Linked DNA regions of Homo sapiens: region 2 is linked to region 1. Evidence: fine-mapped expression QTL. A gene starts in region 1. The other region holds a variant in brackets. All regions are shown on one strand. Distances are between the middles of the regions. Region 1 holds the start of RFK (riboflavin kinase). Region 2 overlaps PCSK5 (proprotein convertase subtilisin/kexin type 5).

Region 1 (5,377 bases):
GGAGTGCAGTGGCGTGATCTCCAGCTCACTGCAACTGCCGCCAGGTTCGAGCGACTCTTGTGCCTCGGCCTCCAGGGTATCTAGGACCACAGGTGAGCGCCACCACTCCCGGCTAATTTTTGTATTTTTTGTAGAGACGGGGTTTCACCATGTTGCCCAGGCTGGTCTCCAACTCCTGAGCTCAAGTGATCCACCGGCCTCAGCCTCCCAAAGTGCTGGGATTACAGGCATGAGCCACTGTGCCAGGCCCTGGCTGATTTTTAAAATTTTCTTTCTTATTTTCTCCTCTTCTTTTCTTTCCCCTTTCTTCTTTTTTTTCTTGTTTCTTTTCTTTTCTTTCTTTTTTCTCTCTTTCTTACTTATTTTTATTTTAAAATTTTTGGATAGACGGAAGTCTCCCTATTTTGCCCAGGCTGGTCTTGAACTCCTCAGCTCAAGAGATCCGCTCACCTCGGTCTCCCAGAGTGCTGGGATTACAGGCGTAAGCCACCATGCCCCGCCCATTTTTATACGTTTAGGTTAATGCTTTCCAACAAAGCTGATGAGAGGATTACATGAGACAGTGTGAAAAATACTTAGCATTTTCTCTATTCTTAAAACCACCCCTCCTCATTTACCTCCTATGATTCATTTAATTATTTTATCTCATTTAATTCTCATACCTTCTTGCAACCTAGGGCTTAGTGGCGTAAGACCCAGGGATGATTTATCAAGTTCTCACCTCCAGGCTTTTCTTATTAGGTGTATCACTGCTGATGAAGTTAAAAATATACCATTCTTGCATATTGACTATTTTGAATTAAAAGCACTTGAAAAACAATAGATACAAAAAAATCATTCTGACCTCTTTTCTGTTTCTTAGAAGCAGATGAAATTACCATATGAGAGACATCCTCCCTATATTAGAAGGAATGCAGCACTCTTATTAAGGACGGGAGTCAAGAGTGAGAGAATCCTGTACACACCTTGCTAAAATAACTCTTAAGCCTCTCCAGATAACTTAATTGCTTTTCACAACTTGCTATTACTACTCTTACTACCGGTATTACTATTATCGTTATTCTCATTATTCTTTGTTTAATTCCGTATAGATAAGTAACTGACCATAATTGCTTCTTTGGGTCCTTCTCTCCCTTCCCTTCCCTTTTCTTCCCTTTCACTTTCCCTTCCCCTTTCCTTTCCCTTCCCTCCCTTCCTTCTTCTTCTCTAGTTCTTTTAAGGGGTGAGGGTGTCTCACTGTGTCGCCCAGTCTGGAGTGCAGTGGCGTTATCATAGCTCAGTGCAGCCTCGACCTCCTGGGCTCAATCAATCCTCCCGCGTCGGCCTCTCAAACTACTGGGAATACAGGCGTGAGCCACCAAGCCTGGCCTAGAACATAAATTTAATATCAGGTAAATCTTATCAGAGATGCATACATGTAAGGTAGAAAGAGACTACACGGTCTGCACAGAATTTTATACAAATGTATAGAGCAAAAAAGAAAAAAATTAAACTTCTCTGGATTCCATTGATTAAAAATTTAAAAAAATAAATAAAAAACTTCTTTGTCTTCGAGACGTTAAGAGGATGCACCTTCTTATAACCTTGCACCCTGCATATCCTGTGAGTGAGCCCAGAGCTACTTCCCTAGGAGCGTGCGTATTTACAGTTCCGAGGGTACGAAGGCCTCTATCTGCATTGCAGTAGAGGGACGGCCTGTTATCGGGCTTGTGAAATTGTCAAGAAGACAGCCTGGAGGGGACAGTCACCGCCCATGTCGGTAACCTTCCACTAGTCTCTGGGGTTAACAGCGTCACAGACAGGGACTTCTCCCTTGGAGCTTACATTCGAATATATTAATAACTCCAGAACGTGGTCAGTGGTCCTGGAGGACGACCGCTTCTGGTAGGGCGGCCAGGAAAAGCCTCTGTGAAGAGGCGATCTTTGAGCTGAATTTTGGAGCTTTAATAAATACTTAAAGAGCGAACGGAACGAGCGATGCCTGACGTTCAACCCAGCGGTTGCCAAGGAGCTAAAGAGCGTCTCACTTTGGCTTCCGGATTGTTATGAACAGGAGGAAGGAGAAAAAAAAACCAGAATTGTTCGAGAATTGTGCTTTCGCGGCTCTCAGGCTGAAAACGGGGTTTCCACATTAGTTCCCATCGCCAGGGGCTGAAACGAAGCCCGGGATCCAGACATTAGGCGCCTGGGGCGGGAGCCTGCAGCGGGAGCTTGCGGCGGGAGCCGGGCGAGGCAGCGGCGGGGCGGGGCCATGATGGGGCGGGGCTACGGAAGCCGAGCGGGCTCGAGGCGTTCGGCTGAGGAAGGGAGCGCACGCCGGCGGCGCGGAGGCCGGCTCTGCGCTTCGGGCCGCCCCCTCCCCCCACCCCGCTCACACCCGGCACTTACTTCGGCTGTCTCCGCTGCCCTCCAGCGGAGACGCAGCTCCTCAGGCGCCCGGCGGTATTTGTTGGGTCGGCGGCGTCAGGGATTCGCAGTGGCCTGTGGTCGGCGTCGTCCGGCCACTGGTGCGCCCCCGCGGCAGGCAGAGCTCACGCTCCTGTCCCCCGGCTGGTCCGGGGTCTGGGCGCCGCGTCGACGGCGGCTCCGCAGGACGCGCAGACCGGGCCGCAGCCCATTCCCCGAGCGGACTGCATTATGAGGCACCTGCCTTACTTCTGCCGGGGTCAAGTGGTGCGGGGCTTCGGCCGCGGCTCCAAGCAGCTGGGCATCCCCACAGGTGAGAGCAGGGCGGCCAGAGTCCCCCGGGCCGGGTCACGTGGGGAGCGGGGAGAGACGGCAGCCGGGGACTTGGGACCGGGGCGTGGGGCCTCCGGACCGCGGGCAGAGAGCACACCCTTCCTCCTCCCGCATCCCCTTGTCTGTGGCGGAGGACCGTTGGCTCGGTTGAGGGAGCTTGTCCCTGCTTCTGGCTCCGAGCTCCGCGGGGACGGGGTTGAGGGGTGGTGAGGGCCGGAAGCCCGAGATGAATCGCAGGATTCCCCGTTCACGCCTCCTTGGCCAGCCAAGGTACAGTTGGTCAAGCATTGCGCTTGTCTTGCCCATTAGAGACGTAACGTGGGCCAGAACGGCTGAACTCGCAAGCCGGGTCTAAGGTGGTTTTGTTTTTAATTTGTAATTATGTAATGTCCAAATGATAACATAGGTAGTTGAATGAGAGTCAGCTAACCTTCTTGGTCTGTCTACATTAATTTCAATAATCGAGACCTGACTGTAATTCATCCTTAGAAATACATGCCAGAGCTGCGTCTTGACTTGTTAAGTCAGCCTTGAGCTTGTGTATTTGAAAAATAAGAAGCTTTGGCCGGGCGTGGTGGCTCACGCCTGTAATCCCAGCACTTTGGGAGGCCGAGGCGGGCGGATCATCTGAGCTCAGGAGTTCGAGATCAGCCTGGCCAACATGGTAAAACCCCGTCTCTGCTAAAAATACAAAAATTAGCTGGGCATGGTGGCGCGTGCCTGTCATCCCAGCTACTCGGGAACCTGAGGCAGGAGAATCGCTTGAACCCAGGAGACGGAGGCTGCAGTGAGGCGAGATCGTGCCACTGCCCTCCAGCCTGGGCGACAGAGTGAGACACCGTCTCAAAAAAAAAAAAAAAAGAAAGAAACTTTTCAGGTGATTCAGTACCTGGTTAGGAAAGAACAGATCTGAAAAAATCCATCTACTCTGGTACTTGTTTTTTGCATCCTACTCAAAGAGTATGGATTTTTTTGGAGAGCTTTATATACTTACCTGGTACTTTATTCATAACCTATTCACATGAATAGGAGAGGGAAATCTGAGCCGGAAAATGGAAGGATGGGATTGATACTTACAGGCAAAGTTGTAGGAGTCTTGTGAATGTAATGATTTACATTAGCCTTGCATGTGATTTTTACAAATGTTTGTTTCTTATTATTATTTTGAGACAGAATCTGGCTCTGCCACTCAGGCTGGAGTGCAGTGGTAGTGCGATCATAGCTTACTGCAGCCTCCATCTGCTGGGCTCAACTGACCCTCCTGCCTCAGCCTCTCTGGTAGCTTAGACTATAGGTGCAGGCCACCATCCCCAGCTAATTTTTTAATAGAGGTAAGATCTCACTATGTTACCCGGGCCGGTCTCAAACCCCAGAGCTCAACATGAGCCTCCTGCCTTGGCCTCTCAAAGTCCTAGAATTACAGACATGAGCCACTGCACTCGGCTACAGGCATTTAATACGAAATTTGTAAGACTCAAAATATTTTCTTCTGTTGTTTAGCTAATTTTCCTGAGCAAGTGGTAGATAATCTTCCAGCTGATATATCCACTGGTATTTACTATGGTTGGGCCAGTGTTGGAAGTGGAGATGTCCATAAGATGGTGGTGAGCATAGGATGGAACCCATATTACAAGAATACGAAGAAGTCTATGGTAAGCATTATATTTTGCTCTGTAACCGAAAATGGTATGATGACTTAGAATAATATATTACAGTATTCGTTACAGAAATAGCTTATCAGTGGTAATCACAACGTAGTTCAAATACTGGAATTTTGGGCAATCTCTGTCTTTTAATTGGAGAGTTTAATTCATTTACATTTAAAGTAATTTCTGATAAGGAGGGACATCTACTGTTTTGCTATTTGTTTTTTATATGCCTTATAACTTTTATGTCCCTCATTTCCTCTATTACTGCCTTTTGTGGTAGTGTGCTTTTTGTTTTGTTTTGTTTTGTAGTGACATTTTAATTCCTTTCTCATTGCTTTCTGTGTATTTCTATAGATACTGTCTTTGTGGTTACCATGGGGTTTATATTTAACATCCTGAAATTCTAAAAGTTTAATTTGAGTTTATACCAACTTAATTTCAATAGCATACAGAACTCAGAAATTGCATCTTTTTTTTTTTTTTTAAAGATGGGGTCTCACTATGTTGCCCAGACTGAAGTGCAGTAGCTGTTCACAGGCCAGGTTGTAGCACACTGTAGCTTCAAACTCATGGGCTCAAGTAATCCTCCTCCAGCCTCCAGAGAGCTGGGACTATAGGTACATGCCACTGCCTGCATCTGGCTCAGATTACATCCTTATACATTGTGGTACCCAATAACAAAGATTAATAATTGGTTTTTTTATGCATTTATTTTTTAAATTATGTAGAAAATAAAGAGTGGAGTTACAAACCAAAATTATAATACTGACTTTGATAATTGCTGTCTGTGAAAGACTCACTTGACCAAAGATAAAAATGATTTAAAAGCCTGTTTCATAAAATTGAGCTTGCCACAATTAATGCACTTCATTCACCATTTACTTCATGCATCAATTGCGCTTGGTCACCCTCTTAAGATAAAACAGTTTACTACATGGATGGTGGATGGAGGATGGTGCTTATTGATACAGTCCCACATTGGTGCTTTT
Region 2 (5,377 bases), 41 kb after region 1:
AATGCTGATCAAGCCAGGCGCGGTAGCTCACGCCTATAATCTCAGCACTTTGGGAGGTTGAGGTGGGCAGATCACCTGAGGTCAGGAGGTCAAGACCAGTCTGGCCAACATGGTGAAACCCCTTCTGTACTAAAAATACAAAAATTAGCCGGGTGTGGTGGTGGGCACCTGTAATCCAAGCTACTCTGGAGGCTGAGGTAGAAGAATAGCTTGAACCCAGGAGACAGAGGTTGCCGTGAGCCGAGATTGTGCCATTGCACTCCAGCCTGGGTGACAGAGCCACACTCTGTCAAAACAAAAAAAGAAAAAGAAAAAGAAAGAAAGAAAGAAAGAAAATGCTAATCAAAAATAAAAAAGAAATGGCTGGTAGCAGTTATGGGTCTGGGATTTTCTTTACTTACAAATAGACCAACTCACAAATATGGCATCGCTTTTTGTCAGTGAATGTCACTTCTGAACCCCAAGGAAATTATCTACTTCTGGACTAGAGAGTATATTTTAAGAATATATGTTTCTTTTTTTTTCTTTTCTTTTCTTTTTTTGAGACGGAGTCTCGCTCTGTCACCCAGGCTGGAGTGCAGTGGCACGATCTTGGCTCACTGCGAGCTCTGCCTCCCGGGTTCACGCCATTCTCTTGCCTCAGCCTCCTGAGTAGCTGGGACTACAGGCGCCCGCCACCACGCCTGGCTAATTTTTTTGTATTTTTAGTAGAGACAGGGTTTCACTATGTTAGCCAGGACGTTCTCGATCTCCTGACCTTGTGATCCGCCCTCCTTGGCTCCGCAAAGTGCTGAGATTACAGGCGTGAGCCACCGCGCCCGGCCATGTTTCTTTTTTTAGAAGGAATCAGTCAGTTTGAGATCTTTCTAAGTTTGTGACCAATGAGAACCAAGTACCCACATGGATGGGGTTAGACGTGAGGATAGCTGAGGGACTGGAAATTGGTAAAGGGGGTTTTACTTCTTAGCCTTCAATAAAAATTCATTTCTAAAATGTCATAAGTCTCTGAGAGGCCTAGGTTTGGGCTGACTTTCATAGAATGATTCTTCAACAGAATCAGGATAATATTGACATCAGCTTCCTTGATAGTTAGTTCTTTTCTTTTTTTCCCAAGAGGGAAGAATAAAAAAAGGAACAAAGTAAATTCATAAAGATAAAATGCTAGCTCTACTTGAGTTCTAGTCTTGGAGGCAAGCAGAAAATCTAATTCCAGATGAACCATTTTTTAAAAAAAAATTTAGACAGCATCTTGCTCTGTCACCCAGGCTGAAGTGCAGTGGTGCGATCTCAGCTCACTGCAATCTTTGCCTCCTGGGCTCAAGAGATCCTCTCACCTCAGCCTTCCTGGTAGCTGGGATTACAGGTATGCACCACCACGCCCAGCTAATTTTTTATTTTTAGTAGAGAGGGATTTGCCATGTTGCTCAGGCTGGTCTCAAGCTCCTAGACTCAAGCCATCTGTCTGCCTCACCCTCCCAAAGTGCTGGGATTATTTACAGGCGTGAGCCACCACGCCTAGTCCCCAGATGAAACTTTTAATATTGGTATGGACTTGGCATGCGAATCCAACTCTTTGAGCCTCAGTCTCCTCATCTGTAAAATGGGACTGATAATCCCTACTTGTGAAGTGAGACAATGGTCATGAAGTTTCAAGTACAGTAGGCCCATAGTAGGCACTCAATAAAAAGGTAGCCATATTGATTCTCCTGAACTTTCCATCCCCCCCTCCCTCTGCTCCCATTGGCTTCTTGAGGACATGCCCTTCCTCTGCAGGCTGCTCTTGCTCTTCCCTCACCCGTGGTGTCCTGGCAGTCACAGCACTCCTGGGCACTGGGGGGATCAGAGGTGTTGCAGCAGTGGAGGCAGTGGCTGTCGTCCATGTGCAGCACCAGGTTGGCAGGGCACAAGGTGCAGTTCTTGGCCCCTGGTCCCTTGCATTCCATGCAGCTCTCGTGGCATTTTTCACAGTTAAACTTCTCTCCCTGTTAAGAGCAATCAAGAGGTTCCTTTTGAGTGTAAAGGGATTAACAAGGCACTGGAGTTCCCAGATTGTATCTCATCTTGTCTTCATAAGGAGGGAGATGTGTGGGGGACAGCAGAAGGATGGTGTGTTCTAAGCCCATTTTAACTGTGTTGGGTGAAAGAACCAACTGTCTGTGATGGGGTGGAATCACGGCTGGGCCCTGTCCTTTGAGATCTGCTAATAACAGTGGGAGAGCAGACGTCTAGAACAGTTTGGGTTAGGAGCTGACAGCTCCTGTGCTCAAGGACAGCTCAGGTCAAGGACTAGTTTTGTCTGGCCCACACTGTTGACTTTCAGTTTAAAATATTTTGCATTCATTTCCCGCATCTCAAAAGTGGGATATTTCACATGTAAATTTGTTCCTAATTTCTCTTTAGAAACTAGAAGACCTGTCAACACTGGATTCATCACTCCCACGTGGCGATGACCCCTCTTTCCACTCTTCTATTTGACATAATCCCCAGCACTTGCTATTATGTCACCAACATGTAGGTGATACATCAATTTCCACTTTCCTTCAAGCATCAAGCTTACACTGTGGTTTTCTTTGACCCAGCATTTATGTTAGTGACCTGCTTGGCCTCTGTGGTTACTGGATTATTGTGGTCTGCCCGCAGAATAATATAGGTTGTGGCTGTGTAGCTCAAGTAGTTAAATCTCTTTGGGAAGAGAGTGGAGAGATGAGAAGAAAGTGGCTTCCCTCCCGACAAGTTGCTCCTTGACTGGTGCTGGAAATGTGGGTTAGGGAAGATGCTTTCCTATTTTACTTCTGTAACTTTGGAAGTATGGTATGACAGAAAAAGAAGAAGGAATGGAAATTGCTTTTGTTGAGCACCTTGGCATGTTTCAGGCACAGACAAGGTGCTTTCTCAGCTGTTATTATCTCATTGAATCCTGCATCTCACATATTATCTCATCCTTCAGGTTTAATCCCAGCTTTGTTACTTAGCACTCATATAATTTTTTTTTTTGAGACGGGCTTACTTTTTTGCCCACACTGGAGTGCACTGGTGTGATCGGATTCAAGTGATCCTTCTGCTTCAGCCCCACAAGTAGCTGGGACTACAGGCATGTGCCACCATGTCCAGCTATTTTTTTTTTT[TG/G]TATTTTTTGTAGAGATGGGGTTTCACCATGTTGCCCAGGCTGTAATCTTTAACAAATTGTTTAACCTCTTTGAGCCTCAGTTTCTCTAAACTGTAATGACGGCTGTTGCCAGAATTTAAAGAGTGCTCATATGTAAATATGTTAGTTTGTGTTAATTTCATCATGGGGAGATTTACTTATTATCTAAAGTTCGAAAACATAATCAAGAAATTTGTGGTCTTGCCGGGCGCAGTGGCTCACACCTGTAATCCTAGCACTTTGGGAGGCTGAGGTGGGTGGATGGCTTGAGCCCAGGAGTTTGAGACCAGCCTGGGCAACATGGTGAGACCCCATCTCTACTAAAAATACAAAAAATTAGCTGGGCATCGTGGTCAGAAGCATTTCAACCACAGCAACTTCATCTTGAATAGGGGCTGGGTAAAATAAGGCTGAAACTTACTGAGCTACATTCCTAGATGGTTAGGCATTCTAAGTTATAGGATGAGATAGGAGGTTGGCACAAGATACAGATCATAAAGGCCTTGCTGATAAAACAGCTTGCAGTAAAGAGCCAGCCAAAACCCACCTAAACCAAGATGGCAATGAGAGTGACCTCTGATGGTTCTCACTGCTACACTCCCACCAGCGCCGTGGCAGTTTACAAATGCCATGGCAACATCAGGAAGTTACCCTATATGGTCTAAAAAGGGAAGTCATGAATAATCCATCCTTTGTTTAGCGTATCATTAAGAAATAACCATAAAGATGGGCAAGCAGCAGCCCTCACAGCTGCTCTGTCTATGCAGTAGCCATCCTTTTATCCCTCTACTTTCTTAATAAACTTGTTTTCACTTTACTCTATGGATTTGCCCTGAATTCTTTCTTGTGTGAGATCCAAGAACCCTCTTTTGGGGTCTGGACTGGGACCCCTTTCCAGTAGCATCTTTCTGGTGACCACAGAAGTGACAATAGCGAGGGAACCCCCAACCCAAAGGCTAACTTTGGGTAAGTGGTGTAGACCAGTGACATGGTAGTCCCAGCTATTCAGGAGGCTGAGGTGGGAGGATCACCTGAGCCCAGGAGGTCAAAGCTGCAATGAGCTGTAATTGCGCCACTGCACTCCAGCCTGGGTGACAGAGTGAGACCCTGTCTCAAAGAAAAAAAAAAAAAATTCATGGTTTCAGAAAATCCATGGCAAATGAATCTCCTTCCTTCCTCCCTCCCTACCTCTTTCTTTCTTTCTTTCTTTCTCTCTCTCTTTCTTTCTTCTTTCTCTCTCTTTCTTTCTCTTTCTTTTTCTTTCTTCTCTTTCTTTCTCTCTCTCCTTCCTCCCTTCCCTTCCTTCTCTCTCTCTCTTCTTTCTCTTTCTTTCCTTCCTTTCTTTCTTTCTTTCTTTCTTTCTTTCTTTCTTTCTTTCTTTCTTTCTTTCTTTCTTTCTTTCTTTCTTTCTTTCTTTCTTTCCTTTCTTTCACATTGCAGGGGGGGGCGGTTTCTGGTAGAAACCAGAAATTCTAAAGAGCTGTAACACTGCAAATGAATTCTTCTTAATACACTGTAAAGTGGTAAAGGAAGCAAAAGACCAACATTAGCTGTGTGGTTCCTATGTTACTCACACATTTCTGCTTAGACCAGACAGAAGTAAGAGAGAAGGTAGTTTGTATTCTGACATAGTATTCTTATGTTGACTGAAACTTCTATGGTGATGAATAACAAATGTAGAATTCATTCCGAGGCCCTCACGACTTAACTTCCCCATTATCTTAGATCTTCTCAGTTCCTTTTGAGTAAAGCTAAGGCTACAGGTGGGTAGCACCATTATTCCATGATGCAACGGTAGAAGGTTTTAAAATACTAAACATACACTATTTCTATAGTATGAGAATTTTGGGACATTTTGATTGCCCAGAATGACATGCAGGAAGTAAGCTCATGTTTCCCTCTAGAAAGAGCAGAAGGCCCAGGACCCCCAGCCCTCCATACCTCTCCCACTCTGTATTCCCCCACAAGACAGTCCGAGGTGCAGATCCCTCCCATGAGGTGGTAACTCCACACACAGGATAAACAATTCAACGCTCCTTTTCCTGAAAGAGAAAACATTCTAAGTTATGAGATTGACCTTAGATTTCAACTTCTGTCTTTGTTCCGGAACACTTAGGAACAAGGAATATGTCAAGTAAATTGAAGCAGAAGGGTGAATTGATTGAGGATACGAAAAAGAAAAAAGTCTCCCACACAAAGTAGAAATTATACAATTAGTTCAATCTATGTAGA

What was found. PIP is the estimated chance that this variant, and not a neighbour inherited with it, causes the effect. A credible set is the group of variants that fine-mapping cannot tell apart.
Region 2: its variant is the best candidate, but not a certain one, in a credible set for the expression of RFK in whole blood (INTERVAL, PIP 0.77).

Annotation. Positions count from the first base shown.
Region 1 is chr9:76,391,432-76,396,808 of GRCh38, reverse strand. It overlaps RFK (riboflavin kinase), which reads left to right and starts at 2,383. Exons shown (of 4, transcript NM_018339.6): 1 at 2,383-2,719; 2 at 4,240-4,391. The coding sequence starts at 2,638. It also overlaps a transcript of GCNT1 not described here. RefSeq lists enhancers at 1,725-1,964, 2,142-2,436, 2,299-3,112 and silencers at 2,245-2,304, 2,325-2,404, 2,445-2,934.
Region 2 is chr9:76,350,638-76,356,014 of GRCh38, reverse strand. PCSK5 (proprotein convertase subtilisin/kexin type 5) reads right to left here. Exons shown (of 38, transcript NM_001372043.1): 36 at 5,087-5,187; 37 at 1,796-1,982. Among named protein-coding and RNA genes, the nearest start is that of RFK, 41 kb to the left of the region's middle. The variant TG/G (reference allele first, on the strand shown) is at 3,126.